Linked DNA regions of Homo sapiens: all the other regions are linked to region 1. Evidence: fine-mapped expression QTL. A gene starts in region 1. Each other region holds a variant in brackets. All regions are shown on one strand. Distances are between the middles of the regions.

Region 1 (7,608 bases):
TGCCCCATGTCACATCTAGCTATTCTTCTGATTCCCAGGTCTAGAAACTACAGTGACTTCAGACCTGCCCCATGTACAATGGAAAGACTTCCATAACCTTTTTTCTTCTACCTCTAACATTGTCTAAAGTTTAATCTCTATCATACATCGCTTATTCCATCAAACTAATAATGATTTTACTTTGCAGATCAAATCCTAATGATATACAATTGATAAGTGTTTAGGAAGGGAAGTTTTGGGCTATAAATTGTCCCTCTTCATCTCATTTAATGCTTTTTGGCCTACTCTGTTTTGTTTGATATCAGAATCACAGCACCTGCTTTTTCAGAGTTGGGGTTTCCGTTATGCCTACATTTGAAAATCTTTTATTTTAAAGGGTGAACTGAGCCCACTTATAAATTGTTATATCTGATGTGGGTTGGTCTCAGCTGTGTCATATTGTTTCCTATTATAACTACTGCATCACTGTGCCACACTTACTGTGTTTCTTTCATTATTTGGTATGTATTCTTTGCTATTTTTAGAACTTTTGGGGTTTTGGAATAGGGTTTCCAATATTTGGGAATACATATATTTTGTTGTAGTGATTTTTATTTATATTTTTAATATATTACCCTTAATTCCTATATTTTGTTTCTAACCTTTTAACATCTGGTCTGTCTGTTTTATATGGTATCCTTTCACTACTACCTGCTACTGATATTGCAGACAATGATATTATTCTATTTTCCCTTCGCTCTTCCCCTTCTCCTCCAGTTGTCTTTAGTTGCACCTGTTCTAAGTTTATCAGAAAGTATAATGTATATACACTAGTCTTTCACCTTCTGAATATACAAAATGCTCTCCATTAGTCACTCTGCTGGCTTCCTCAGCTGTCTCTTGGTTGGAGGAAGCTCATTCTCTAAGATTCCTCATGAAAGGCCCATGTGAGTCACGTTCTCTGAATTTTTGCATTCAGGTCATATCTGTTTGCCTACAACCTTGACACTTGAGGGCTGGGTATAAAAATCACTGCCTGGTACTTTTTTGTGTGTGTGTCATGGAGTCTCGCTCTGTCACCCAGGCTGGAGTGCAATGGCATGATCTCAGCTCACTGCAACCTCTGCCTCCCGGGTTCAAATGATTCTTCCACCTCAGCCTCTCGAGTAGCTGCGATTACAGGCACCTGCCGGCTAAGTTTCATATTTTTTTTAGTGATGGGGTTTCACCACTTTGGCCAGGCTGGTCTTGAACTCCTGACCTCAGGTGATCCACCCACTCTGGCCTCCCAAAGTGCTGGGATTACAGGCATGAGCCACTATGCCCAGCCTGCCTGGCACTTTTGTTCCTTGTTAATGCTGCTCCACTGTTGCCTGGCTTTGCATGTTGCTGTTCAGAAGTCTGATGCCAGCATAAATTTTTATCTCTATAAGCAATTTGATCTTTTTTGCCTTTAAAATCTAATCGTTTTACTAAAATATATTTAGGAGTTGATAATTCCAGATCATTTCCCAAGGTACATGGAAGTCACTTTTGACATGTACATTTAAATTTTCCCTTATTCCTGGATTATTTTCTGGGGTTATAGTTTTAATATTAATTAGGTTTTATTGTTTAATGTTTGTACTTTAGGGACTCCACTTAACATGTATTTTGGTCTTCCTTTCCTGGCTTTTATTTTAACCTCTTCTCTCTGAACCTTTTTACTTCTATCTTTATATTATTTTCAATTTCTTGATTGTTTTCTTGCCATTCTTCAGTGTCCTTTTACATATTTTCATTTGAATATATTTTCCCTTGGACACCTTGTAATTATTCTTTGTTTCTGGGATAGTTTTTGTCATTACTTTCAATTTCCTTCTTGAATTTGCTCAACCCTTGTTGCATTTCTTCCTAATTTTTGTCTAGTCTGTCTTCAGTTCTTGAAATTTCTTATCCTAGATATGTGTGTGTGTGTGTATGTGTATACAAATACGTGACACTTTGTTCAGTTTGACATGTGGTATTACAATTTTCTTATGCTTCATGGTTTTTATTGTGGGGGTTTTCATCAGCGAAAATGTTATGATTTATTTTTTATCATCAGAAATGTGATTTCTGTTTTCTTTTTGCAGAATCTTTAAATGCAGTTGATTTGATGTTTTTCTGTTACTAGGCATTTTGAGGCAGGGTTCCCGGTTCAAGAGTGTTTTCTTTTATCTGTGTACTGAAATGCAGTTTTTAATAGATAATGTTGGTGTTTGGGGAGGGGACTGGCTGTCTTCTCTTTCATTTCTGCAGGATTTGTAATTTTCCCTTCTGACTTCCTTCTTTCCCTTCATTGTCAGGCCTCTGAAGGACATTATCTTCTTTTCGTATTTATCTGACTTTTTCCCAGAAACAAGGCTCCTTCAAGCCTCTCACCTCTTGTCCCATTTTCTTTCAAATCTCTTCCCTTGATCAATAAGGCACCTGACCTCTGTTCAGTTTTTAGTTCTTGGTGTTGGACTTTCTATTTATAAAGAGGTGACAACCCTGTACTTCACTTAAGTCCTTGGCAATAGTGGAGGGAGCTCAGTTGGAATTTGGTATCTTTTCTTTCTTCTACTTAAGTAATTTAATGTTCAGTTCATGGCATTCTCTCTAAGTAATGCTGAAGGCTTGTTTTTGTTTCGTTGAGGATATGGGTACGGACTTATATCAGGCAGCTGCCATTATCCTCTGACCGAGAAGCTCCTGAAAACATTTAATATATCAAGTTCTAAGTAAAATTTCTGTCTTTCTTAGGAACACTGGAAGCTTTGCGTGTTGCAAGGGCATCACCAAGGTTACATAGATTATGTTACAAGACAGATCGTTTTCTTGTATCGTTAAAGATGCTTAATGTGCTTTTTAAAGAACGCAACGAATGAGAAAGAAAAGATTTTAAACAATATATTATTGCTTTCCTTCTTCCTCATTTTGTGTTTATTGAAAAGAACAACTCTACCATTGATAGCTCTGTCACCCACAGAAAAATGTTCTTTTGAAAATTACCTTCTCAGTTCCTACCAACTCAAAACCTCCACATCTGCCTATATAGATAAATAAAATCGATACCAGCGGGTCAGGAATGTTTTGCTGCAAGATTAGTGAGAAAACTGCAGCAAGCAGCAGCAAAGTCGGGTTCAAGCGGGCGGTTTGCACCAAAAACTCAGGTCAGTTGGCCAATAAGAGCAAGCCCGTTAAGGGTCTGAGGTGGCCCCAAAGACCAAGGCTGAAGAGGTGACAGTCTGGGCAGGAAGCACCGAGGCCACTACCGCCCCCGTAATCGAGAGGCCCCGTGTGCGTGAGCAAGGCTCTTTGCCCACGTGTGCGCGCGCTCCAGTCGGGTCCCGGGGCAGCCACCTGTCACTCACGGGGGAGGGGGCGGCCGGCGGGGGGAGCACGCTGAGGGGCGGGCGGCCGGGGGCGGGGCGGCGCCCAGGCCCTCACGGCGGAGCCCGGCGTGCTGCAGCCATGGAGACGCGGCAGTCCCCTCCCGCGGCCCGCGCCCCGGCCCCCGCAGCCGCCGCCGATTGGTCGCCCTTTGCTCCCTGACCCCCCTCGCCGCCTCCGAGGCCGCTGCTTCCTGCTCTGGTGCCGCGCGGCGCCGCCGGCCCGGGGCGGAGCTCGGGCGCCGAGTGCGCGCCGCCGCCGAGCAGTAGCACCGCGCGGGAGGAGGAGCCGCCGCCGCGCCCTTCCCCTTCCTCCGCTCCTCCCCCGGCCCCCACCGCGCCCGCGGCCGGCCCAGGCAGCACTCGCGAGCAGCGGCGGCCCCGCCGGCGGCCGAGTTGGGAGAATGCGGCGGCGCTCGCGGATGCTGCTCTGCTTCGCCTTCCTGTGGGTGCTGGGCATCGCCTACTACATGTACTCGGGGGGCGGCTCTGCGCTGGCCGGGGGCGCGGGCGGCGGCGCCGGCAGGAAGGTGAGTGGAGCGCCCTGCCGCGGCCGGGCCCCTGCGCCCACCCCCCACCCTGCGCCCCTGTCCCCTGCCCTCTCCGCGCCGCCCCTGCGCTCCTCCGCCCGGACCTCCGCTCGCGTCGCCCGCCCTCGTCCCGGGCCTCCGCGCCGAGTGCCCAGGGCAGGGGTGCACCCGGCCCCTCTGCGCACGCCGGGCTCCGAAAGGGCGGCCCCCGCAGCCTTTCTCTGCCCCCTCTCGTGGACGTCGCCCCTCTCTCTGCTCGTCGTAATTCGAGTCTTGTCCGGCCGCCGGGAGCCCCATCCCCTGCGGTTGGAAGTTTAGGGATGGGGGTGTTGGGAAACACAAAGGGGGTGGGGAGGAGAGGAGAGAGAGGCGACCGCTTTTCCAACGCGTCATGTACAGCAGGAGAGAGGAGTCCAAGTTTCTTTTCAGCCCTTTGATACCAGCGGCTGCAAATCCTCGTCCCTTTCCCCCTGTCACTCCGCGGGGCGTGGGTTCCGTGTTTCTGCCACCTTCTTTGCCCTTTACCTTTGGGGGGCAGGGGCGGCCGCTCCCGTGCCAAGTAAAGCCCCAGGGCCCGTGCGAGCCAGGGGCCAGTGCGCCCCTGCGCCCCGAGCGAGGCCAGTCCCGGCCGTTCCCTTGCGGCCCCAGCGTTACCCTCTGCCCAACCCGGCCCCCGGCCCTCCCGCGCGAGCCGGACGTGGCCTCCTGCGCTTGCATTTTCCATCCCCACTCCCCGCTTCAGGGAGAATCCCTCTTCTGTGGCTGTGTTTTTAACATGCTCCAGGGGCCGAGTGATCTGGCTGTGGGGACCGTGTGAGCCGCTCTGCGGTTCCGCGTCCTCGTGCCGCCGCTCCGGACGGCCGGGCCCTGGGCATTCGGGAGGATGGTGAGCGCCGAGAGGAGCCGGGACAGCGCGGTCCTGCGGCCGAGCGCCGGCCGGGAGAGCAGGGCGTCGGGCTGTGTGCTGGAGCATGCCGGCAGGGGACGTTTGTAGTGTTTTACTGGCTCCTCGGCTTTGAAAGCAGCGTTATCTTTTCCGAATTCCTGTAACCCTCGTTACTGTGACATTTAGTGTCACCGCAAACCCAGAAAATTCTGAGTTAATGGAGATGGACTACGGGTGGTTGGGTTGGAACAAGAGAGTGGTATCCTGAAACAAGCCAGAGGGAACTAACTAGATGAACAGACTTCAGTTCTGAAGTCAGACCCCTAAATGTCCACGCCGGGGTTTGGCTGCTTCAGAGGTTTTTTCTTTGCTTCATTCATTCATTCATAGCCGAAGATGTTAGGTGGAATGGGTGCCTTATGTGGTTTCTGGTAAATTACGTGGATTTGTTTTATCTAGAAGGGCAGAAATAAAGCCCTCTTTCCACGTGCTGAATCGGCCTAGCTTCTGAGCTGACATTGTACTCTTAGCGTTGTTTTTGTAAAAAATGGTATAGGTAGTATATGTACGCGAAGACTTGGTTTATTCTTGAACAGCAAAGAGCATGCAGGCAGCAAAAGCCGTGCAGTCCATTCAGAGATATAATCGTGTAAAACTGGAATGATTTTTAAAACTTTGCTTCCCGGTAAACTGTGCCTTGGCCACTCTGCATAGCCTGGTGTGCTGGTGAGACCTGGCAAAGCTTTCTGCCTTTCATGCAAAGAAAACCAAACACATAAGCCACCCTTGGCGTTTCTCTTTCCTTAGTCTGCCACTTTCATTAGTACACGTGATTAGAAAGAGCAAGCGTGCTCGTTCGCCTCCCGGAGGCTGATTCCTCACTCTGGTGGGCTTCAGTTCCTGGATGGTGTGAGGGGTCTTCCATGCAGAAGTCTTCAGACACTCCTGAAGTGTGTGATTCTTAGTTTGTTTTTTTTTGTTTTGTTTTGTTTTGTTTTGTTTTTTTTAAAGAATTCCTGGTGGCAATATAGACAGGTACGGAGACCAGGTAGAAAAAGTGGGGGAAATGAACAATTAATTACACATGGATTGGTGATTTGGGATTCTATTCTTTCTGTCAACGAACCATAAAATTTAATGCTACCCCTTAGGATGCTTTAGTGATTTGTCGGTTGAGGAAGAGGTGTGTAAATGCAATAGCTTTTGAAATTGCAGTGGAAGACTCATTAACTTCGTGTGGTGGACCCAGGGTTAAAGAGAAGCCTTAAGATGGTTTCTGAAGGAGGTAAATAGAGCCCTGCTGTCACGAATGCCTGATGTATAGGAAAATCGTGTAGTCTTCTTTCTTCCCCAATTGTTTCCATGGATTTAGACACTAGAAGTGTCTCTAAATTTATTTCATTCTCATACCAAAAAAAAAATGTGGTTTGTTTGGCTTGTAAAGTATGGACATAAAAAAAGATAGCGGGCCATGCACAGAAAGGCAGAATTTAAAAGCTAGCTATAGTTTTTTTAGAGATAAGTGGACCTATATTTTTTCTCTTGCCTCATACTGTTCAAGTCAGGGCTTTTATTCCATATTTAGCCAGTTTCTGCACATCCTGACGTTTTTCATAGGGTACTAGGCTGCAGTATTGGGCTTTAGGGATCGTCTGAGGGGAGTCCAACTAGGATTTCTGCTGCTTCAGCAGCCCAGCCCAGGCTTGTCATTGTGTGCCCTGCCTGTTAAGTAACTCATCACAGAACTGTTATTCTCCACTTGGCAAAACCCAGAGAGCCAGCTCACCTCAGATTGCAGGTTTAGTAAACTAAGCAGGAGGGAGTGCTGAAGACCAATCTCAGGCACTGCCGCACAACTCGGGACTCAACACCCAGGCTCAGGACATGTATGTTAAAGCAGTTTATTCAAAATATTGTTTAAAATTATGTTTCATTTACATTTGTGTCCATACCCTTTCCCCCCATATTTTGCTCTTTCCCCCTAAATTGATGATTTGCACTTCAAGCGTGCCTTTCCTTTGAGCTTCTTAAATGCTTTAAAATTTTAACCATGTTAAGTCTCCCCTGGGCTTTGGTACGTTGGCAGTGGATGGAGCCGCAGAAGAGAGGAAGGGATTTCTCTGGAAATGAAGCTGCCTGTGGGTGAAGTGTGGCTGTTTAGGGTGGAAAGGGAAGGGTTTTCTCTCTGCTGTAAGAGTGTGTGGAGCCTGAGACCCCTTGCCTGTGTGCCTGCATGCTGGGAGGTAAGGGACGGTGTTAGTTGAGGGACATGATCCGGAGCCCTGGGAGCCTGTCCACTTTGCACAGTAGCATCACCCTTATTCCCTGAGCTGGCACGAGTCCTGTGGCCCTTGCCCGAGAGTCCAAGGGTGGGGGACTTTGGGTGGGATCTTCTAGGAATCATGCGGGGAGGCGGGCAGGTTATTTCTTGGAACAGTGAAGGACCTTGCCGGGCTAGACCATGGTACACATGGAGGGGAACGTTAGGGTGTAAAGTTGGAGAAATTCAGAACTAAATTGTAACGGGCTTCAAATGCCAAGCTGAACCATTTGGGAACTAGTAATGTTTTTGAGCTAGTAGTAGACATTAAAGGGAAATGGCACAAATCCACTTATTGGCATTGAGTGAGACCTAGCTGTTTACCTCTTTGTGCTTAGTGACCTTCACTGATGCATTGAACCTCTCTGACCCTCAGTTTCCTCATCTTTGCAGTGGGAGTAATCATTCTTACCTCATGGCCTTGTTCGGAGAGTTAAATACTGTTAGTGGGTGCTGAATAACTGCTATCTCTAAAAGAGGAAAATGAAAAAATAAAAG
Region 2 (7,608 bases), 70 kb after region 1:
CTTTGCAATACATTCTTTACTATGTCCTTGGAATAGATTTCTAAAAGTGGAATTACCGGGTCAGAGAGTTTGAACATTTTTAAGGCTTTTGATAGATGTTCTCAGCTCTTTTCCAGAAAGGTTGTACAAGTTTACACTCAGACCAGAAGACTCTTTTGTACCTTTGCCACATCGTTAATATTTGCAAATAAAATCTTTGTTTATTGCCTAGGTGGTAGTTGACGTTTCTGTTTCGATTTCTTTTTTCTTTTTTTTTTTTTTTGAGACAGAGTCTCACTCTGTCGACCAGGCTGGAGGCTGGAGTGCAGTGGCATGATCTCAGCTCACTGCAACCTCCACCTCCCGGGTTCAAGCAATTCTCCTGCCTCAGCCTCCAGATTAGCTGGGATTATAGGCGCCCGCCACCGCGCCCAGCTAATTTTTTGTGTTTTTGGTAGAGATGAGGTTTCTCCATGTTGGCCAGGCTGGTCTCGAACTCCTGACCTCAGGTGATCCGCCTGTCTTGGCCTCCTAAAGTGCTGGGATTACAGGCATTAGCGCCACACCTGGCCTTAATTTTGATTTCTTTAGTTCCCTTGAACTGAAAAGTGTCTCATGTGTTACCTGATCCCGTAGCCTGCTTTTCTCATACTTTGTGTTAGCTGTTTAATAAATATTACAAATTGCAACCCTTTGTCTATTTTTAGGTAATATTTTCCCCACACTTTTCCTTTTTTTTAAATAGAGAGGAGACTTAACTTTATGTAGTTAAATTCTCATCCTTTTGCTTTCTGGTTTCCTCCATTTCTTTTAAGCTTAGAAATGCTTGTCTCAACCAGAGATCAGGTAAGTAATACTTAATTACATATTACTCTGATACTTGGTTGGTTTGCTTGATTTTGATATTTAACTCTTCATCCACCTGAATCTGTTTTTTTTTTTTTTTTTGGCAGAGTCTCACTCTGTCACCAGGCTGGAATGCAGTGGCGCAATCTCAGCTCACTGCAAGCTCTGCCTCCCGGGTTCACGCCATTCTCCTGCCTCAGCCTCCCGAATAGCTGGGACTACAGGCTCATGCCACCATGCCCAGCTAATTTTTGTATTTTTAGTAGAGACGGGGTTTCACCACGTTAGCCAGGGTGGTCTCAATCTCCTGACCTCATGATCCGCCCGCCTTGGCCTCCCAAAGTGCTGGGATTACAGGTGTGAGCCACTGCACCTGGCCTATTTGGTATTTTTGAGAAGTGCAGCTCTAAGTTGGTTTTATCCCCTTCCCCCAATTCCTAACCAGTTGTTCAGGTGAGACAACCATTTGTTATTTCTTTGGTTTCAGAGAAGCTGTATCTATCTATCTGTGGTGTATCCCTCTCAAACCTCCCCTCATTCTGGGTTGGGCCCAGGAGGAGGGTATCCAACCCAGACCTGGTGGAGAGGAGCAGCTTTTTTTAAGGCCAGTAGTGCTCAATATTTATAAACTCCTTCTGTATCAGCTCATGAGACATTTCACAGTTGTACTCTTCGCCTGCTTGGCTGTGTGACTGAGAGGAGCTGGGCGTGGGGTGATACAGCAGCGAGCAGGTGAGGTATCGGGGCAAGCCCACCAGCATCTCTCCCGTGTCATCTGCACTTCAGTATTGGATTCCTCCCCGTGGACCCAGTGCTCAGAAAATCCAAGGCCAGTCTTGGTGCTACCACTTGCTTAGACAAATCACTGAGTTGTCTGTGTCAGCCAGTTTCTCCGCTGTATTTAAGTATGATCAGTGTGAACTAAAAACCTATTTGGCCTGCCTGTTGTGAGGCTTAAATGAGAGGAAGTATCTGAGAGTGTTTCAAATCATCTAAAGCATTGCCCTCACATAATTTCAAAGCAATATTAATGTATTAATTTGAGCCTTTAGGTGCTAAGGGTTGTAAGATGCACCATCATTTTGTCAATTTTAAGATGCATTCCCCATTTCAGAGATGTCGGAACAGGAAAAGCCATGCATCCTGGAATTGGTGTTTGGTCCTGACTCTCATGGGGGGTGAGAAATGGTAGAGACAGTGTCCTAGACTCGGGGGTGGGGATGCGAGGGGTGTAGAGGAAGACAGTCATGGATACCCATATTTTATTCTCTAATGATACAGAATCTTCATTTTGGGCCGATTCCTGTGGCTCTATTTTCTCTTTGTAATTCTACTTTGCGATGCATGTTTCAGAAGAGAAACCATTTTCCAGCTTTCTTCATCTCATTTCCGTTGTGCTAACAGAGAAACTCTGAATTCATCTGAGGTGCTTTTTACTTTTCTTTCGGTGAATTGTCAGGCATGAGCCACAGAAGCCATCCGAATCAGGTTTCTGTGTGGAAATCACACGGCGGGGAGGTGGAGGCACAAAATGATCTTAATGACATGCACATCTTCCTGCTCCCTTGTGGAGCTGAGTGTGGGGGGCCCTTTGCAGTCTGGCAGGCTCGGCTCTGGATTTGAATTCAGTCTCTGCCATTTATCACTTGAGGGATCTCAGATGAATGCTCTTTCCCTTTCCCTTTCCTTGAGACACAGTCTCCCTGTGTCACCCAGGCTGGAGTGCAGTGGTGTGGCAGCCTCGACCTCCTGGGTTCAAGCAATCCTCTTGCTTCACCCTCCTAAGTAGCTGGGACTACAGGTGTGCACCACCACGCCTGGCTAACTTTTTCATTTTTTTTTTTTTTATAGATGGGGGTCTCACTGTGTTGCCCAGGCTGGTCCTGAACTCCTGGTCTCAGGCGAGCTCCCCACCTCCGCCTCCCAAAGTGTTAGGATTACAGGCGTGAGCTGCTGTACCTGGCCAAGTGCTCTCTTTCTGATCCTTAGTTTTCTCTTCTGTAAAGTGAGGATAAAAGGATATATTCTGGAGCGTTGTCAGGAGAATTGAATGAGCTGCATGTGTAAGCCCTAGCAGAGTTTCCTGGGTATAGAGGAGGCACTTAGTCAGCGTCACCTCCTTCCCATCTTCTCAGGAGTTGGAGGGTGACAGAGCAGAGGAAATTTAGGTTTTCACTCTTCTGGGGGTGGGTCAGGTAACTATGATCGAACCTGCACGCATTGTTTTAGTGCCACGTTGATTGGGTCGCGCCTGATCATTTGCTTCTGGTCTGACTGTCCCAGATCCCTGTCAGCACATGTCTGGCACCAGCCATCCTCTGATAACCCTGCCATAGAGCTCCAGGAGAGAGTGGGGCCTGTTCCTGGTGGCCTGAGTTGTTGAATTGTACTCTTTAGACATCGAACCTAATGTTTCAAAACACACATTCATTCGTGAGGCCTGTCTGCCGCGCTTTCTCTCCCGGATGTGAGTTCCAGCACATGCATGCACCCCCTCACTGCCCCCCATCCAGAGCCACAGCCTGCCCTGTCGGAATATGTCCAGCCCTAATGAGGGAGGCGTTGTCTTCAGATCACACACTCCGCAGCGGCTCTGCTCTGCCGCGCCCCTTCAGGAGCGCTGGGTCTGAGAGAGGACTTCAGAAATAACGGGGGCAACGTTCCGCTTTGATGCTATTATTAGAATTTTCCAAACACCGCTTGTTTGTAGCTTCACAGGGACTTGGAGAGAGGCGAGTGGGAAGAGGTTGCTGCTAGTGCCATTGTACGGGAAGCTCAATGGCATTTATCTGGTCCAAGGTCATTCAACAAGAACAGGTTGAAATCACCCTCAGACCGAAGAGCCGGCCGTCTGTGCATTTTGCTTTTCCCGCAGTTCAGCCGGGACTCTGCTTCACGGATGCTTTCACCTCA[C/A]GGACAGCGAAGCCAGACACACAGGCCCTGCGTGGTTGGGGGCGAGAGCATTTTTCCATAGTCAGTGGGCTATTCCGAAGCTAAGAGACCGTTTCCTTGAACCAAAAGGCTGATTCTTTCCTGCTGGAGCTCCTGTTTTCATACTCATTTCCCTGGGGAGTGGAGCTGAGGCGTGTGGACTGTTCCCACCCCCGCCTGCACCCAATAAGCTTTGGGGGAGCCAAATAGTGCTTTTCACTGGAGCCTGAGTGGATGCAGGGAGGCACACATGCTTCATAGAAGGGAATCAGTGATCTGTCCCGCTGCTCTGGGGCTCCAGCATGGAGCTTCACGTAGGCTGGGGTGGGGTTGGTTCTGTGTGACAGCCTGCACAGAGGTGGTGGATATGGCCGAAGCCACTTCTGCTTCATGCTGTGTTTGGGCCAGATGTCCTTGGTGGCTGGGAGGGTCTGCTGTGGAGGTGCCCATGGTCAGAGAGCCTGCAGGCTGCAGTGGCTGACCTCTCCCCTCCCCACCTGGCTTTGCTGAGAGGGTGCTTGCTGGGTGTTCTCAGCTGGGCAGCCAGCCGAGGCTGTCACAGTGACAAGGGAGGAATTATTTTCTCTTCAAGGGGTGGATGTGAATTACTTAATTATTTGCAGAAGTTTCATTGCTTTTTACTTACATTCTCCTGATTCCTCCCCAGTGGAAGCATCAAGACCCCACTGCAACAGGCTCGTCAGCATCTTGTCACAGCTGTGGATGTTTGCCAGGCTTTCTGGACGAGTCCAGCTCTAGATTGCAACCTGGTTTAGCTACACACGTTGAAAAGGAGAAGAAAAAAGTAGAGATAAGATAGGATTTGGCTCAGGATTGATGTTGTATAGGGTTTGACTTTTATTATCTTTCACTCTTGAAAAGTGAAATATATTCTCCTTTGATTTCTGTTGACGTTGTTGGAAATAGAGATTTCCTTCAAGTCTTTAAACAGCATTATTATCGTTTCCTAGGTTCTTAGTTTTGATTTGTTTTACAAGCAGTAGTGCTTCATTCTAATCCTCCTGCATCCATTTTACCTTTTTCTCCTTGGAATTTGTTCAGTGATGACTTAATAGAAAAAACACCTTGCATGTCGTTGCGTGCGTCTTTTCCAGACCTCTGTCTGTGGCCTCTTCTCCTTTCATCTGCCATTGCCCAAGTGTTACTGGAAAGGGGTCCTCATCCAGACCCCAAAGGACGGTTCTTGGATCTTGCACAAGAAAGAATTCAGGGTGAGTCCATGGAGTAAAGTGAAAGCGAGTTTATTAAGAAAATAAACAGGGCCAGGCATGGTGGCTCAGAGCGCCTGTATTCCCAGCACCTTGGGAGGCCAAGATGGGCGGATCACCTGAGGTCAGGAGTAAGAGACCAGCCTGGTCAACATGGTGAAACCCCATCTCTACTAAAAACACAAAAATTAGCCAGGCATGGTGGTGCGTGCCTGTAATCCCAGCTACTTGGGAGGCTGAGGCAGGAGAATCGCTTGAACCCAGGAGGTGGAGGTTGCAGTGAGCTGAGATCACGCCTCTGCACCCCAGCCTGGGCGATGCAGCGAGACTCTGTCTCAAAAAAAAAAAAAAAAAAAATGAAACAGAAGAAAGAATGGCCACTCCATAGGCAGAGCAGTGGCATGGGCAGCTTGACTGAGTATACTTATGGTTATTTCTTGATCATATGCTAAATAAGAGGTGGGCTTTTTATGAGTTTCGTGGGAAAGGGGCAGGGATTTTCCTGGAACTGAAGGTTCCTCCCTCTTTTAGACCATCTACGGTAACTTCTTGACGTTGCCATGGCATTTGTAAACTGTCATGGCACTGATGGGAGCGTCTTTTAGCTATTGTGTTATAATTAGCATATAATGAGCAGTGAGGATGACCAGGTGTGGCTTTTGTAGCCATCTTGGTTTTGGTGGGTTTTGGCAGCTTCTTCACTGCATCCTGTTTTGTTTATCAGTGGGTTCTTTATGACCTGTATCTCATGCTGACCTCTTGTCTTATCCTGTGACTGAGAACGCCTAACCTCCTGGGAATGCAGCCAGTAGGTCTCAGCCTCATTTTACCCTATTCAAGATGGAGTCACTCTGGTTCAAACACATCTGACATGAGCACTCAGTGTCTACCCTCACGGGGGTTATGGTGTGAGGAGACCAACAAGAGCTTCTGGCTTTTTCTAGCTGCTACTTCCTGTTGACCATTGACAGCCACTTTACCCGGCTTTGGTCCCCTCACCTTACTGTTTGAAAGGTATCTAATAATCCCCATTTCAGAGATTTATATTTAAATGAAGACATTTAGATGAGAACAATCAGGGTCCTCTTGCTAAATCTGAAGAATCCCGATGTTATCGTTGAAGCCAAGTGCTCCTTCCTGGCCACATGTGTCCCTTCTGATGAGAAGTTTATCCCTCTCGGTTCCCTGCCACAACTTCCAAGCTGCATGGGACACACCAAGACCCCTCTTCTAGGCTAAGACAGCACAGTGCAGCCTGGAGTTCAGGGTCTCAGCCTCTGCCTTCAGCAACGCCTCACTCCTCCTGCCCCATGAAGGGAGGACGGTTATTCTGCAGCAGGGCTGCTGGCACTGGGCCTGGAGGGGAGCCACTGTAAGCCTATCAGGCAGTCCAGAACCAGCACCTGTTCCACTGACAACAGCTAGAATTGTAAGAAAATGGCCACCAATGGAAAGAGCAGTAGAATAGTAAGGGATTTTTTGTTTTTTGGTAAAATTCCAAGGAAAATACAAGCAAAGCACTGCGAGCGTAATAATTTGCCGTTGCATGGACTAAGGGGTAAGGAAGGATGAACTGGTGTATTAAAGGAAATCCAGTTTCGTTCCCACCTATGAAGATTACTCAGGTTTATGGAGAGTTGTTTTGCTTTGGGCTGTTGCGGAAATAATCTACTTGGAATGAAGTTCTTTCAGCTCCTGGGAACCTTTAATTGTCCTGTGGGCTGGTCATTCAGGTTGTACATCCACAGACTCACAGAATTGCGTAGCCCTGGGAGGAAGGGACCATAAAGATGAATCAGCCCAGCCTTCCTCAGACATCCTGCGACCACCCCAGGCCCAGAGAGGCTGTGCCTGGTCCAGGCTGCCGGGTCCCTGCGTCAGCTGTACTGGAACTGTCTGCTGAGTGCGCCCTCCCCCACGGGGCTTCTGTCTGCTTCTTGGACACCCCTTTCTTCCCCTTGGGGGTCGGCTTTTTAATGGCCAGCTCACCTCTGCCTGAGAGGAGGAATGAATCCCAAGGCTTGGGTTTAGGGGATGGCTCACCTCTGCCAGCCTGTGCTTCATGTTTGGAGACAGGTGATGGTTAACCAGGCAACAGTCCCTGCCAGTAGTGTGTACACAGACAGTAGTGTGGCTGGTAGGTTTGGCCAAGGCCTGGAGTTGGATTCCTACCCCTGCCACTGCCTGGCTCCACTGCCCTGGGCCAAGTCCCTGCCCTTCCCAGTGCCCCAGCCCCTGGACAGCAGTGCCTAGGTGACAGAGAGTGGTCCCTGTCCTACTGAGGGGATGGGAGCACAGTGGAGCGTGACTTCCCGTGAAGCTGCTGTCCGTTGCTATAGAAATCCAGCCTCGGAACCGGGAGTACTGTCAGTGGTGCTCGGGAAACTTCCCCCTTCCTCCAGCCTGTGCTTCCTGGAGTGACGCGCTGCCACAGCTGGAGGCTTCTCTGCAAACGTGTATTATGGTTTTATCTTCTCCCCTCCCACAATGAGTTCTGTCTGTGTCAAGTGTTTAGAGATCATTCGAACCTTTCTCCTCACCCCTCCCTTCCCCTTTTCCTCAGGGAAAAGCTTGTGCATAACTCAGTAGTAAATGAATTGTCTAAATCATGTAGCAAAACACA
Region 3 (7,608 bases), 86 kb after region 1:
CATGGGGTGCCTCTGAGGGCTTCTCACTCTTGATTTAATTCTCAGAAACGCTTCTCAACACCGTTGGTGTCTTTCTTAATTATACCATAATAGAGGTTGACAGCCACACAGTATGATGGACCCCAGGGTGAGGATGGCTGGGTGGGCTTGTGGGGCTGCTGAGGCAGAGACCTAGGAGGGTGCTCTCCATTCCTGGATGCGGAGCCCATGAGTGGCTTAAAAGACATGCACTGGCTCCGCCCTGGGGCCAGGAGAGCCATCGCCTGCTTGGTGACTGCAAAGCTGCCTACCTCCGTGTGCTGCCGTTTTTCTGTACCGAAGCTTCCCTCTTTACCTCACCATAGGAAGCCTGAGATGTAACACTCAGAAGAGGCTTGACAGGCTTGGAATCAAAGGCATGACTTCATACATCACCCAAGGTGTCATATTTCTTCTCAGAAACTTATATTTGGATAAAACAAAAATCCTTTTTCAACCTTTGAAACGGTTTCCAACAGCTGCTTTAAAAAGACATAGTACAACAACTCCTTCCACTTCCTCTTTCTGCCCGCTTTGTTTTTGTCCGCAACCTTTGCAGAGAAGTGAATGTCTCTGTTAGAGTTGGAGTTGGAAATTGGGGAGGGATGTGTGACTTGATTCTGAAAGGAAAGTCTCATCTCTTTGGTAGAGCATTTTTGTTTTGTTTGTTTGTTTTTAGACCTTAAGCTCTACTTATAATTCTGTCTAAGACACCTTTGTGGAGCAGTTGGAGTGCCTGGCTCCTCATTAGAGAATGCGCTGCGACATTCAGCCTCTCCTTGGCCTTCTAGGATGGCGGGAGGCACAGACACACACTCCTTTTCCCACCCAGGGATTTGGCGTTCAGAATGGGGGCTTTGACTGCTTGGCCCTGACTGTGCAGTTTTCTGGATGGAAGCCTGCTGTCTTCTGAGCACAAAGGAATCCATCGTTTTCTTTGCTTCCCTAAGGAATCTATTTTCCCAGTGGCAGAGCAACTTAGAGAATTCCCAGCCAGGGCCACCATTCTCAACTCCTCAGGACGAGGCTGGTGCACCCGGCATGCAGGTGTCTGTAACTTTGTGTGACTTGTTGAACTCTTTCCTATTTAAGGTGCACTACCTGGGTTGCCTGGAGCACAATATTCTTCCTCTTGTGGAAATATGTTCAGGATCTTGTGTGGTGTCCTGGGTTTGATTTTATAGCTTTGCCAACATAATGATTACAGTTGACGATCACCGTGGCCACCGTTGTCTTTTCCCTCCATTCCCCTGCAGCTTTCTGGACCTCCGGGATGTCCTCCTGGAGGGAAGGCCCCTGGAGAAGTGTCCCAGTAGAACGCACTGTTGTGTCACTTGCTCTGACCACCGTTGACATCGCAGCACAGCGCTGCACACCCGTGACAGGGTGATGGTAGAAGATGAGGGTCGGATTGTCCACGTAGTGCCTCCAGGAAGCTCAGGATGATGGCCAAGCCAGATATGTAAGGTGGCTTTGGGGCACAGGATGATGCCCTCGAAGTAATGCATGGTCTAGTTGTTTTGTAAACAGTGCTGTTTCCTGAAGAAGCAATGATTTTCTGACTACCCGGCCTCCCCAAGATAGCCCTGGGAGGAGAATTTCTGATTCTCTCTACAGCAGTGCCTTCTTCTGTAGGATCTCCCCACATGTCCCTGTGCCCACCACGTAAGCTAAGGAAGGAAAGCAGAGCTCCTCAGTTCATTGATGGCTTCAACTACAGATGAACCAGTGTTACAGGAAAGGGGTCCCGATCCAGACCCCAAGAGAGGGTTCTTGGATCTCGCTCAAGAAAGAATTCAGAGCAAGTCCGTAGTGCAAAGTGAAAAGTTTATTACAAAAGTAAAGGAATAAAAGAATGGCTGTTCCATAGACAGAGCAGCCTCGAGAGCTGCTGGTCGCCCATTTCTATGGCTATTTCTTGATGATATGCTAAACAAGGGGTGGATTATTCATGCCTCTCCTTTTTAGACCATATAGGGTAACTTCCTGACATTGCCATGGCATTTGTGAATTATCATGGTGCTGGTGGAAGTGTAGCAGTGAGGACGACCAGAGGTCATTCCTGTGGCCATCTTGGTTTTGGTGGGTTTTGGCCGGCTCCTTTACTGTAGCCTGTCTTATCAGCAAGGTCTTTATGACCTTATTTTGTGCCGATCTCCTATCTCATCCTGTGACTTAGAATGCCTTAACTGTCTGGGAATGCAGCCCAGTAGGTTTTAGCCTCATTTTACCCAACTCCTATTCAAGATGGAGTTGCTTTGGCTCACATGCCTCTGACAAAAGTAAAGCTCTCAGGGGGCTCAGGCTGATGGGTTCCCTTTTACTTCTTTGAATCCCCAGTCGGGCTTGGAACCATGGCCTGTAAGCGCATCCGACACTTGGCTAGAATCTCGAACCTGACTCTTTCAAAGATGAGGGCAAGGTTTTTCAAATTGTAAGTTGTGACTCAGTAGATCATGAAACTAATAGAGGAGAATAACATCAGTATTCATGATGAATAATTAAATAGAAAATACTGGAGCACATCATACATGTAAGAGTAGGTACCCTTTTATGACACCGTATGTGGATGGATGGGCGTGCATGTATTTATATAACGTATATATTTAAATACATGGTTTGGGGGATGGATGTCTACATCAAATTTATTTGTTACTATGGGTTTTGGCAAAAAAGTTTGAAAGCTGCTAGGATAGTGCATAGCCAGGAGGGAAATAAGAAGAAGCTATGAGAGAACTAGATAATCCTTCTCCTACACAGACTCGTGTTTTGTGTGAGTGGGACACTCCTCAGCCTGCGTCCACTCTCAGGTAGCTTCCTCTTTGAACCGCTTGTCATTGTGAGGCAGTGACCATCTGCGCCAGCCCTGTCCTTGGCTCTAACGTGATGTTCATTTGCTCACCTTTCTTGGACTTCCTTTGCTTCCTCAGGCTTTAGCTTCTTGCCCTGCTGCCTGTATCTATGGCCTTCTCTCTGGCTGTGGTTTAGGGAAAATCACTCCATCTTTCTGTGCCTTCAGTGTGTTTGTCCACTGTGAGTGAAGCATAATCAATACTTGGTGACTTGGCTAAACTGCGTTCAGTCCTTCTGAATACTTATTTACATTTTATTTATTATTTTTATTTTTAGAGATGAGGTCTTACCGTGTTGTCCAGGCTGGAGTGCAGTGGCGTGATCATGGCTCACTGTAATCTCAAACTCTTGTGCTCAAGCGATCTTCTTATCTCAGTCTGTGGAGTAGCTGAGACTATAGGCCTGAGCCACTGCCCCTGGCCTGAATACATTTAAATGAGATAAAATTAAATGAGAGAATGAAAATGAATAGGCCCATTGCCATGCCTGAGACAAACTCAGATGTCTGCTAATGATCGGTTCTTTTCTCCTTACATGCGGGAGTGTTTCTGTAGTCAGACTGGACACCTACACACTTAAACAGTCATTGATGGGGGGTCAGCCTTCAACATTTTAAGGGTCTCTTTGCGTTTTTAGTTTTATTTTTAATCACAGTAAGCACATTTTCATGTATTAGAGAAAAAGAAAAAACACCCATAATGCTTTCTGTGTAGAAGCAAGCATTACAGTGGCCTTGGTGGTGTTTTTTGAAAGGGCTGGGGAATTAATTCATCGAGAACATCTGAGGACGCCTTCCAGATTCACCAATCATCAGGCCCCTAAGTACCCTTCCAGCCCCACGCCCCTGAGTTCTTTTCATGATTCCAACCCAGAGGTCTCAGTTGTGAAAAGTTTCTTTTGTCAGACACAGTGAGCTCAGTCTGTCTGGCCGAGGCCACTCCGCTCTTGGAGATGGATTACAGCCTTTGTTCCCACTCCTGGGCCTCCTGGCGTGGCCTCGGGGGCCCCTGGTTGGTGGCACTCACCATTCACTCTGTGGAGGGGTCTGGTGGAACTGATATGTTCATAAAAGCTACTGGTAAAAACAAAACAACAACAAAAAAGCTACTGGTGCCCAGTGCCTCTTACAAACTCTCATGCAGATTTATCGTGTGGGTCTGTCTGCGTGGGTGTCTACCTTATAAAGACTCAGAAATGGTTTCTCTTTTCACCCATTGTTTGGAGAATAATAAGTCTCTGTCAGATTAGCTTCTTGGGGCCTCAGTGCTTTTTGAAAAGAGCTTGCATAATCA[GTGTC/G]TGGTGAGCTGTGAGGCCAAGAGCATATTGCCATTGTGCAACGGGGATGTGGATTTTGTACATTTTCAATATTTCACCATTCAGTCTTGTCAGAAGTCAAGCTGCCGTCCACCCTGCACTTGCAGTGGAGACATAGGCCCTTCGTCCACAGTGGATAAGTTTTTCTCCACGTGGGCCACATTCTTACTAGAAAAGAAACCCCGGCCCTTTAGCTCATCACCCTCTGCTCTGGCTTTCCCCGAGTTGGTACAGAGCTGATGCCGTTGGTATTTTTAAGAAATAATCTTGAGTCAGAAGGAATGTGCCAAACCGGCACAGGTGAGAGATCTCTGGACCCCCTTATATTTGCCTATTCTGCCCCTTCTGAGAAATTTCTGGGAGAGAAGGTAGTATTATGGGACAATGAAGCCCTAACCCCCAGGACCTCAGAATGTCACTTTATTTGGAGATAAGATCTTTATAGATATAATCAAATTAAAATGTGGTCGTCAGCATGGGCTCTAGTATGACTGGTGTCCTTATGAAATGGGGGATTCAGACAGAGCCAGACACACGTGGAGGGAAGACAGTGACAAGAGAATAGACAACAGGCACCACCTCTAAGCCAAGGAGAGAGGCCTGGAACAGCATCTTCCCCCATGGCCCTCGGAAGGAACAAACCCTGTCGCCCCTTGAGCGCAGACTTCCAGAACTGTGAGAAAGTGTGTTTCTGTTCCTGAAGCCTCCCAGTTTGTAGTACTTTATTATGGCAGCCCTGGCATACTTACTCAGGTAGTCTCTGTCAGGTTATTTATAACTCACCTTATCACATTGGTAACTTGTGGTTTTATCATTTGGCATGACATCCAAGGCCCCTTGCAGTTCTAATATTTACGTACTAGCACTTAAAAAGACTTTCTCTGACCACAGGGTCTTTGCTGGATGGGGTCTTGGTCTGGGGCTGGGGCTTTGGTTTCCAAACATCAGGGTCCTCCCAGATGAGGCTGCCCCGCGCCGCATGCACCCCCCACCCCGTTTCCGCGTGCAGTTTTCTGCGGAAGTATTTCCCAGGTCCTCGGTTTCCCTTCTGTGTGAGAGCGTCACTTTCTCTCACATCTGTGGAGCGGAAGTCCTGAGGCAGTCACCGTTTGGGGCCTGCATGGGGTTGTGAGAGCCCTTGTGCTGGCTCCTGCCCGCCCTGTTCTTCGTTGGCTGCCTAGGGCTCCCTGCAGGTTTTCGCTCGGAGGTGGGCCCTGCCTGCAGCCGCTGACCTCCGGGAGAGACCGGCCTCTCCCTAATTATAGCTCATCTCTTAATCCCGGTCATCATTTCAGCTGGCTGTCCTTGAACTGAAAATTGGAATACAATTCAACCTGTAGCTGTTTTAAAAACTGCCTTATTCAGAGAGGGTCAAGATAAAGAAATTTTAGCTTCTTTCAGGATCTTCCAAAACAGATCAGGAATGACTGAATCAGGACAGGGTCTCCTCCTTTGGGGCTGGGAGGGACAGGGCAGGACTCTCCCAGGACAGTCCCATGGGCAGAGCTAGGTTTTGTGAGGACTGGAGCTTTTGTCATTTGAAGACCATTTCTAAGAGAAAGAGTGATTATAACCCCAAAACTGGGCTCCCAAGTGCATAGCACAAAGGACCCCACAGAAGATCACAAATGGCCCATCCTGACTGGAAGAGAGAGATTAGATTGAGGGCCAGGTCGTGAGGGCACTCTGAGGGTCGCTAAGACATTCGGCGTCAACCTCCAGTTCACTCAGGAGTTCTGAGTGGAGGACAAAAGCCTTGCTTTAAAAGGACTAATTCTGTAGTGATTTTGCCACATGGAGAGGGGAGGGAACTATTGTGTCAGATCAGGAAAACCATGGGATCAGTGCTAAGGGCCTGTGTGGTGGGCTCTGTCTGGGTGGGAGAGACTGTGTCCTGGTCATGGGGCTCAGTCTGTGGGTGGGTGATAGAAGAGTAAAGCTTTTGTGTTTTTAGGGTGGGGAAGAGAAGAGAGAGTCATTGATTTTAGATACAAGTGGAATACCACGTAGACCTGGCCTCTGGGTGGTGATGACCTTCTGGGGTTGATGTCTGGAGACGGTGCGGTTTTGGGATGGGGGAGCAGACGAGGGAGAGAGAGAGAGAGAGAGAGAAAGAGAGAGAGAGTGTGTGTGTGTGTGTGTGTGTGTTTTACAGCAAAGACCTGGATCCTGAATCTTGGGGAGAAAACTCCTTGCATTGTACATATTGGGCTGGTTACATGGCTGAAGTTCACCGTGTCATTTTAGGCCTGTTTCTGGCTTCCACACTGGTTTGCAATGTCATCCTAGGGAAGTCAGCTTGTCCTTGGTAGGATATATTCATTGGTGAGTTCACTCAAGAGACTCCTTTTTGCGTTTCTTTACCTTCAACGTTCGTTTCCTAAAATTGATTATTCCTTCATAAAGTTGCCAGCATTTTCAACATGCTTCCTAGATGCTGGATATTTTATTATCGTTTGTCACGGATCAATTTATTTTTTTGGCCCTTAAACTATCACATTTTCTGCAGTTAAATTTGCTTAACTTTCTAATGCAGGGGCAGAATGTAACCTGCAGGTTGTGGCTTTAGAAAGCAATGTGGAACTCGGGGCCATGGTAAGCAAGTTGGTGGTGGTTTTTTTTAATAGCACATCTCATCCTTTGATGTCAGAACACTGTCTACACACTCTGATTCATTTCAGTCAGTCCCTAAAATGTGAAGATGAAATGTTGGGGAGACAGATCCTCTGGCCTGAGGAAGCTAGCCGTCTTGTTTGGGAGATAAGAAACATCAACTGTTTTGAAAATACTTTGGTTCTATCATTAGAGAGCTGATCAAGTGCAGTAAGAGGCAAGGTCAGACTGGGCTGTATTATGTTTTGATTTGGAGAAACTATCACGAAAGAGGTAACATTGAGTCAGAGCCTGAGAGAATTGTGGAGAATCCCTGCAGGAGTAAATAAGACCATCCCAGGAGGGCTCTCATTTAAGGCCTCGTGTACTGTGGTCATTTGACCTTGGTTCAGATGCCACTTCAGTTTAGATGCATTTAAAAGCAGAGAAAACATTGGAACTTACTGTGTAGTATTGAGTGAGCATTAATTGAGATGTGTGTGAACCATTGAGCATGATACCTGGCGTGTCGTAAGCACCATTATAGCAAACTTATAGAAAGCTGCATTATGTCACTATACACCTAGGGGAGTGGCTTTGGGGGGAAAAAAAGCAAAAATGCCACCAAGTACTGGCAAGGACATAGAGCAGCTGGAACTCTTATCCCTTGCCAGTGGGAATGCAAAATGGTACAACCACTTTGGAAAATAGTTGAGCAGTTTCTTATAAAGCTAAACACATGTTCTCATACAACGCAGTAATCCCACCCTTAGATATTATCCAAGGGAAATGGAAATTTATGTGCTCTTGGGATTCATAATGGCATTATTC
Region 4 (7,608 bases), 210 kb after region 1:
ACGTATATACATGCCACATATATATACGTATATATACATGCCACATATATATACATATATAAACACATATATACATATATAGACACCACAGATATATACATATATATACACACCACATATATATACATATATACACACACACACATATACACACAGTTTCTTTAAACATTTCAGAATAGACTTTCTACCTGCCTTGTAAGCCGGTTTTCTCTGACGTATTCCCTTGTGGCAGCTTGTGGACACACCCTTTCTCAAGGCATGGGGTAACAGTTAGTGTCAGGAATAGAAATGCAAGCACAAAAGGTCCTCCCTGTATGCCCATACTTGGAGTGCCTGCCCCTGTTCTTACAGTCGGTCCTTAGAGATAGATGGGATGTAGGGAAACTGAGGCACAGAACCTACTGGAGCCAAGAGCCTAAGCCAGCTTCTAGTCTAACCCTGATTTCACAACAGAAAAGTCTCAGAAAGTCATTGCCTCCACCCTGGAGTCATCTGGGAAGACCAAGGCCAGGACCGAGTCCCCGGTTCTGACCCCAGTTGTCAGGGAGACGCCTGCAGAGGGCCCTCTTTCACCTGTCTGTCTCCAAACCCCTGCGCCAGCTCTGGGTGCTCCTCCTTCCCTGCTCTGCAGAGTCCCAGCCTGTCCTGGCAGTGGGAGCCCCTCTCTAGGGTTCTGCTCACAATCCGCATCTCTAAATGTCCATCTGTGTTGATGACTTGATACCAAAATGTGTAAGGGAGTGCCTGTTAAACAAGAGAAGGCTAGCACCGCTTGGACCCAAACCACCTAGAAATTGCCTCACTCATTGGCCCCTCGAGAGGAAGCTCCTCGAGGGCAAGGCTGGCATCTGCTGAGCCAAGTACTGGGTGAGTCTCAAACACATTCCCCTGGGATGTAACGGAGCAGAGATGTCTTTGGATGTAATGGATTGATAAAGTGATGACTTTAGTTGACACCTTTTTAAAAAACAAATATTACTTCAATATTGCTTAATTTCAAGAATTGACAGGTGTTTCTGCTTCAGTCCCAGTTTTGGGGAACCATAACTGACACGGCTTAGGACCTTTGTGAAGCATGAAAAGACCTATAAATAATAAGTTTTTCTGGATGTATGGCATGTATAAATGGGGATCTGTTAGGTTTTAAACCCCAAGACTCAGGCTATTAGAGAGGATGTGGGGGCTGTTTCAGTAGAGTCTGACTGCCTTGAAAATCTGCGCTCCCCACCCCCAACCACAATCCCATCAGACAGACAGATCAGAGCCCACAAGGCCACCTGTGCGAGACGGAGCTGGGGTTTTGTTGTTGTTTTTCTAAGGTTCTTGATTTAGCTGATGCTTTGACACATGACAGGCAGTCCCTCCAGTGGCCAGAATCAGATTCCGTTCATTCCGAATTCTTTGTTGAGAAGATTCCTGGCTGCTCAGAGTAACAGGGCAGCCTCAATACATACACACTTTACATGACAATGGGGAAAAACAGCATGAGGGGTGATTGACAGCAACGAGGGAGCTGGAAATGAAAGAGGCAATGACAGGCACTTAGCAAAAGCCTCCCCGGCTCCTCTGATTGCACTGTCTTTCCCTGCTGGCAAGAACTCCAGGTGAGCAGGTGGACGGAAATAAGGAAAGCAGGGTACAAGTGACAACATCCTTGTGGTGTTTCGCGCAGGTCGGGTCCCCAGCACTGGGCTCCTCTGCCTGCACCGGCTCCTCCCTGCCTCACTCACTGGCCCCTCAAGAGGAAGCTCCTTAGCAAATTTTATCTTGGAACTGAACTGGCTTTGCCAGTTGGAACATTTGGTTTCCAGGCACGTCCATGTTTTCATATGTTGTGCATATTTGCAGAGTCAAAGGGGAAAGGGAGGCAGGAGTGAGAAAATTTAATTCTGCAATGTCAAAAGGATTTGCAAAAAATACTTAGGTGAAGGAGCTTTCGTGCACACAGTATAAAAAATTAATTAGAACCACAGACTTCATTATTTGAAACGAGCTTTGGGGAAGAAAAAAATGTTACTTTTTTTTTTTAAGAACAAACATTAGAGATTTTTAAAGGGGGATTTTTCTGTTTTTCTTTCTTTTTTTTTTTTTTTTTAAGAGACAGGATCTCACTCTGTTGCTTAAGACTGGAGTGCAGGGGTGGGTATGACCATAGCTCACTGCAGCCTCGAACTCCTGTGCCCAAGCGATCCTCCCACCTCAGCCTGCAAGGAGCTAGGACAACAGGCATGCACCACCATGCCCTGCTAATTTTTTTTAAAAAAAATGTTTGTAGAGATGGGTTCTTGCTATGTTGCCCAGGCTGGTCTTGAACTCCTGGCCTCAAGCGATCTTCCTGCCTCGGCCTCCCAAAGTGCTGGGATTAGTGTCGTGAGCCGCCTGCACTCAGGCTGAAAGGGGTATTTATGTTACTTGCTAAACAGGGCTCCTCAGATTTCCTTCAGGCTGGGTTGTGCACTTTGATTCTGGCTTAGTTGGTGGGTAACGGGTATGTGGGTTGAGTTTGGTTGTTCGCTTGATTTGAGTGTTAGTAAAGAGGCATCGTACCCTGTACTTTACAAGCGGCATGTTCAGAACTCAGCAAACATTGGTCCCTGCCATACAGAGCACCAGGGGGCTCAAGGGTAGCAGAGACAAGTTTCTCATATCCACCAAGGAGCTTGCACACCAGTAGAGAACAGACTACATAGAAATAGGCTTCTCAATGCTATGTTCTGTTCAAACAACCATCTCTCTTCCTGACATTTGGCCTGACACCGTTCCTCTGGCTCCCCCGAGCAGAAAGCCCTAAGTGGGAGCATGGAGGTGCCCAGACCAAGGCCTCCAGGCAGGGCTGCTTTCCAACAGCCAGGGGAGGATCTGGCCCTGCATTGTGTGGATCCCTTCTTGGGGTGAACCATCACTGGATCAAGCTTTCATACGAAGGCATGCAAATTCCCCTACATCAAATCCTGTGTTAATGACGAAGGGGTGGGTGCCCAGAGCTCTGGGGCTCAGAGGAGGGGACACCCACAGAAAGTTTGGGGCAGGAGACGTTCTGAGTTTTGATCCAAGGCAGAGAATATGTTTCCTTCCTGGGTCCCAGCAGCACCTGTGGCTGGTTTCCTGTGGGGCTGCTGCAAGCTCCTCGGCCGTTCAGATGAGAGGCTGGGAAAAACGTGTCTATCTGTGAGTTTTTAATGCAGCCACAAGGTCCTGAATTCACACGAATCTGTTTGTACTCCTTTGCTTGTGCCCACACTCTAAGGCACTCTCCTGTGTCTTGCAGAAATGGGAACAGATCGAGGGCAACTCCAAGCTGAGGCACGTGGGCAGCAACCTGTGCCTGGACAGTCGCACGGCCAAGAGCGGGGGCCTAAGCGTGGAGGTGTGTGGCCCGGCCCTTTCGCAGCAGTGGAAGTTCACGCTCAACCTGCAGCAGTAGGAGGGTCCGGGAGGCCCTGCCGTCCTGTCTCCTGCACCATTGGGTGGAGTCTGGTGATCACATTATTGATTATGTTTCTTAAACTTTC[C/T]GCGAAACTAATATACCTCAGTATTCCATCATGGTCTGAAAGTCAAACTTCGGCAAGGCACGGACGACTGTGCAGACACAGCAGCGGCAAGAAGCGAGAACTGCCCTCCCCCTCCTCTCGGTGCAGCCCAGCCGGGCCCCCTTCCCCAGGCCGGAGCGCCCCTCTTCCTTCCAGCTTTCACTTCTGCCGGCTCCGCAACTGAGTGACACCCAGCGACAACCGACTGGGGAGTGGTAGAAGCAACTGAACGGATGCGTGCGAGCTGAGGACAGGGCGGGAGGAGGGGGCACACATGCCCCAGGGGAGCGAGGAGAACTCTTGAAATCTCCATTTTCAATCCCTTCGAAATCACGTATGGTTTCCACAAAGCCGAGTCGTGTCACGTGGCAGGTTTACGTCAATAGTCCCTCTCTCTGCTCCTCCATTCGCAAGTGTCTTCCTGGGCCAGACTCCCCTCCACCTCATGTACTTGCTATATTGAGGATGAAGTTTTCTATGGTGGGACACTAAATATAAAGCTATATAGAGAAAGAATGTACGGTCAGTTCCCTATGGTTTCTGTAGATCATCGTCATCTTGTATATTCCCCACAAAGCCGTTCGCAGCTTCCGGGAGAAGGGGCCAGAGCCCGGTGGGGCCAGTTTCTCACAGAGGGAGGAGGTGGCCTTTGTCCCCTGGAGCCCGATCAGCCAGTTGGTGCTACTGCTGTGGCCAGCTGGGGGGCTTCCTCCAGACCACCGGCCTCGGCCCCGGCATCCCTGTTGGGCGTCAGCCTGAGAGTCCCTACTGTGCGTCAGAATCCACCTTGCGTGCTGTGCGTATCTGTGAACCTGGAGCGGTTACTTATTTTGACAGATATCACTTTGGGTCTTTTTACATTAAATTTCTTTTCTCTAAGGAATATAAGACATACCCCATAGCTCTGTGTGAGCCAGCAATACCGCTGCCCCCTGGCGACAGGGCAGACCAATGATGCCAGGCAGCTGTCACACGCTAGTATTGGCTTCATTGTGATCTGAGCCCTGCACGCTGGGCCTTCAGAATTAATGGCCAGCAGTGTCAGGGATGAGCCCGTCAGCCAGGGCACAGGCCTGGCTCACAGTCCTGCACACCTGCTGGCCTGGGGAGCTCCAGCCAGGCAGCGAGTCCTGCCCCGCCCGCAGCTCCCTCCCACACCCCGCCTGGCCAAGATGACTGCTTCAGGGGGCTTTGGGGAAAGAATTAGGAAGGGTCAGAACCAAACAATACCTGCTCATTTACACTGAGGATTCAGGGCGGGAGACAGGAGCCTTGGGGTCCTGTTAAACCACAGACAGTTATGAACTGAAAGTCATAACGGGGAGAGGTGCCTGGCTTCTACCTGGGTGCTCAGGAATGTTCCTCGTCACCCCTGCCACTCTGTGGTCGGTGCCCTGCTTCCTCCTCCACTCCTGGCCGCCTTCTCCAGCGCCGCACACACAGATGCTCAGTCTCAGAGAGGCTGGCACGGCCTGGCAGTCTGAGAAAAGCGTCAGTTAGGCACACCTGCAGGCCCCTCGGTGGGACAGCGGCGGCCTTGGAGTTAGGAGCCACCCTGGGAGGTTGTGCCGGTGCCATGCTCCTCCCTGTGTCTTGTATGAAAGGGGCCACTGTGTGTCTTCCTCCCCGGCGGGAGCCCCACATGTGTGCACTGTAGGACAGCGGCCCCGAGGTGGAAGCCTGGCTGGAGGGCTGCCCTATAGGTCTTCTCTTCCCGCCTCCCCTGCCATGCAACCAGATGTGTTGTGAGTGGGCAGCGTGCCCCCACGCTGGAGTAACTCCGCACGCTTCTGTCTTTCACGGTGGGCGCTCGGGGGGAGCCTGAGGAAAACCCCCTTAGGTACCTGTGCGAGGCTGTGGAGTGCAGGCCAGAGCAGGGTGTGCGTAGCCCCCAGCACCCAGGTTCTTCTGTCAGACCCTGTGACCTGCGAGCTGCTACTACTGTAAGGAGGGAAATGGATGAATCTGGCTCGTTTTAAAATCACGTTTTCTGACGAATCCTTTGCCCCTTCACCTTTACCCCGCCCGCACCCCTAGGCCCTCTCAGCCTTCCTATCATCCCACGTGTCTACCCAGACCCTTGTGCGGCCCATGCCCTGGGGGCGGCGTCCTGTCCCTGAGCTGGGAGGCGGCTTTGGATGGTCCGGGCGTCAAGAGCAGGGGTGGGCCGGGGAGGGGTCCTTTGCGGTGAGCTATGTTTACATGACACAGTGTGCCAAAGTGACTTACTGCGGTTGCGTTAGTTTTTAATCATCAGGACTATCTCACCCTCCCACTCCTGTTTTTAAAACTCAGAATTCTTTCCTAAGAGCCCTTCGAGCAAAGCGTGCCGAAGTTAGTTGTCTTCTCTGTGCTGGTCCTTTCTTATGTCCTCATAAAAGCTCAGATGATGGTATCTGTGAGTATGTTTTGCAAATTCAAAATATAGTTTGGTAATTTTTTTTTCCAGTTGATTTTTAAAAAGAACTGCTGTACAGAGCTTGTACTTTGTCCATTTTATAGATGGAAACCATCCTTGAAAATTGTTTAACTTAAATAAAGAGAAGATACTTTCTAGATACCGCTCTTTGCTGGCCAGAGTCTGTCCTGGTGTGTGAGGGCTGGGTGGGGTGGGTGTGGGGACTGGGATTGGGGTCAGCCTTCTGCAGCTCCTGCTCAGTGGCTGTTTCTTATCACCTTTTGCAGATGCGCTTTTATTGCTGTGCCCTTTGGTTGGTTATTCTTACTTGTAATAATAATCATTATCATTTGTGGAGTGTTTATGATGTGCCAGGCACCCAGCCAAGCCCTTAAATACATTTGCATTTTACAGCCACAGGGGAAGCTGGTGAAGGAAGTTGCTAGCCTGCTCAAGGTCACGTCCTTCCTGTGTACCTGCCTGGAGCCAGCCCTTGGCACTCGCACCCAGACCCTGTGCTCCAAACCAGGGGACAAATATTTTTACAGTTTTTCAAGTAGTTAAGATTTATAGACTTGTTTACCAGTTACCTGGGGCTCTTCGGTTCCATCCAGGCGTCTCTGAGGTTCTTCAGATACTATTTGTTTTATTTTATTTTTTTTGAGACGGAGTCACCTAGGCTGGAGTGTGGCGGCGCAATCTCGACTCACTGCAACCTCCGCCTCAGTGATTCCAGCGATTCTCCCGCTTCAGCCTCCAAGGTAGCTGGGATTACAGGCACTCACCACCATACCTGGCTAATGTTTTGAATTTTTAGTAGAGATGAGGTTTCACCATATTGGCCAGGCTGGTCTTGAACTCCTGACCTCAAGTGATCCGCCAGCTTCGGCCTCCCAAAGTGCTGGGATTACAGGCGTGAGCCACTGCACCTGACCTTCGGTACCTTTTAAATTCCTGCATTTGAGCCAGGCCACAGTAGTGCGTGCCTGTAATCCCAGCTATTCAGGAGGCTGAGGCAGGAGGATCGCTTAGCCCAGGAGTTTAAGACCAGCCTGGGCAACGAAGTAAGATTCCCATCTCAACAACAGAAGCAAAAGTACCTACATTTGAACAGCCCCACAAGGGTTCAAGGAAACATAACCTTGACCAATTATTTAACAATTTTTTTTTCAAGACAGAGTCTCACTTTGTCGCCCAGGCTGGAGCGCAGTGGTGCAATCTTGGCTCACTGCAACCTCTGTCTCCTGGGTTCAAGTGATTCTCCTGCCTCAGCCTCCCGAGTAGCTGGGATTACAGGCCCCCACCACCACACCCGGCTACTTTTTTGTATTTTTAGTAGAGACGAGGTCTCACCATGTTGCCCAGGCTGGTCTCAAACTCCTGACCTGAAGTGATCCACCCGCCTCGGCCTCCCAAAGTACTGGGATTACAGGCATGAGCCACCGCACCTGGCCCAAATTATTTAGCAATTTTGATTGACATTGGGGTGAAGTAGGAGGTTGGCCACTGGCAGGACTGGCCCAAATGAGTGTCTGAAACCTTCTAGAGACCACATGTAATCCATTTTCTTTCCCTATTATTTGGGACACCAAAAATTTGCTGCCATCTGAGAAGACTAAAGGAACTCTCAGCATCGTTTTGTAGCACCCACTGGAGCCCCTTAGGGATCCCGTGTGTGGT

What was found.
Region 2: its variant is fine-mapped to the expression of GALNT2 in thyroid (GTEx, PIP above 0.99).
Region 3: its variant is fine-mapped to the expression of GALNT2 in whole blood (TOPMed, PIP above 0.99).
Region 4: its variant is fine-mapped to the expression of GALNT2 in whole blood (TOPMed, PIP above 0.99).

The regions. Positions count from the first base shown.
Region 1 is chr1:230,063,503-230,071,110 of GRCh38, forward strand. It overlaps GALNT2 (polypeptide N-acetylgalactosaminyltransferase 2), which reads left to right and starts at 3,736. Exons shown (of 16, transcript NM_004481.5): 1 at 3,736-3,904. The coding sequence starts at 3,779. RefSeq lists enhancers at 2,952-3,111, 5,466-5,545 and silencers at 3,242-4,051, 4,492-4,551.
Region 2 is chr1:230,133,203-230,140,810 of GRCh38, forward strand. The region is part of intron 1 of GALNT2 (polypeptide N-acetylgalactosaminyltransferase 2); the gene reads left to right. Among named protein-coding and RNA genes, the nearest start is that of GALNT2, 70 kb to the left of the region's middle. RefSeq lists enhancers at 3,715-4,215, 4,216-4,716, 7,094-7,608. The variant C/A (reference allele first, on the strand shown) is at 3,739.
Region 3 is chr1:230,149,936-230,157,543 of GRCh38, forward strand. All of the region lies in intron 1 of GALNT2 (polypeptide N-acetylgalactosaminyltransferase 2), which reads left to right. Among named protein-coding and RNA genes, the nearest start is that of GALNT2, 87 kb to the left of the region's middle. RefSeq lists an enhancer at 287-516. The variant GTGTC/G (reference allele first, on the strand shown) is at 4,164.
Region 4 is chr1:230,276,035-230,283,642 of GRCh38, forward strand. It overlaps GALNT2 (polypeptide N-acetylgalactosaminyltransferase 2), which reads left to right. Exons shown (of 16, transcript NM_004481.5): 16 at 3,269-6,088. The coding sequence ends at 3,424. Among named protein-coding and RNA genes, the nearest start is that of PGBD5, 150 kb to the right of the region's middle. RefSeq lists an enhancer at 6,266-6,425. The variant C/T (reference allele first, on the strand shown) is at 3,513.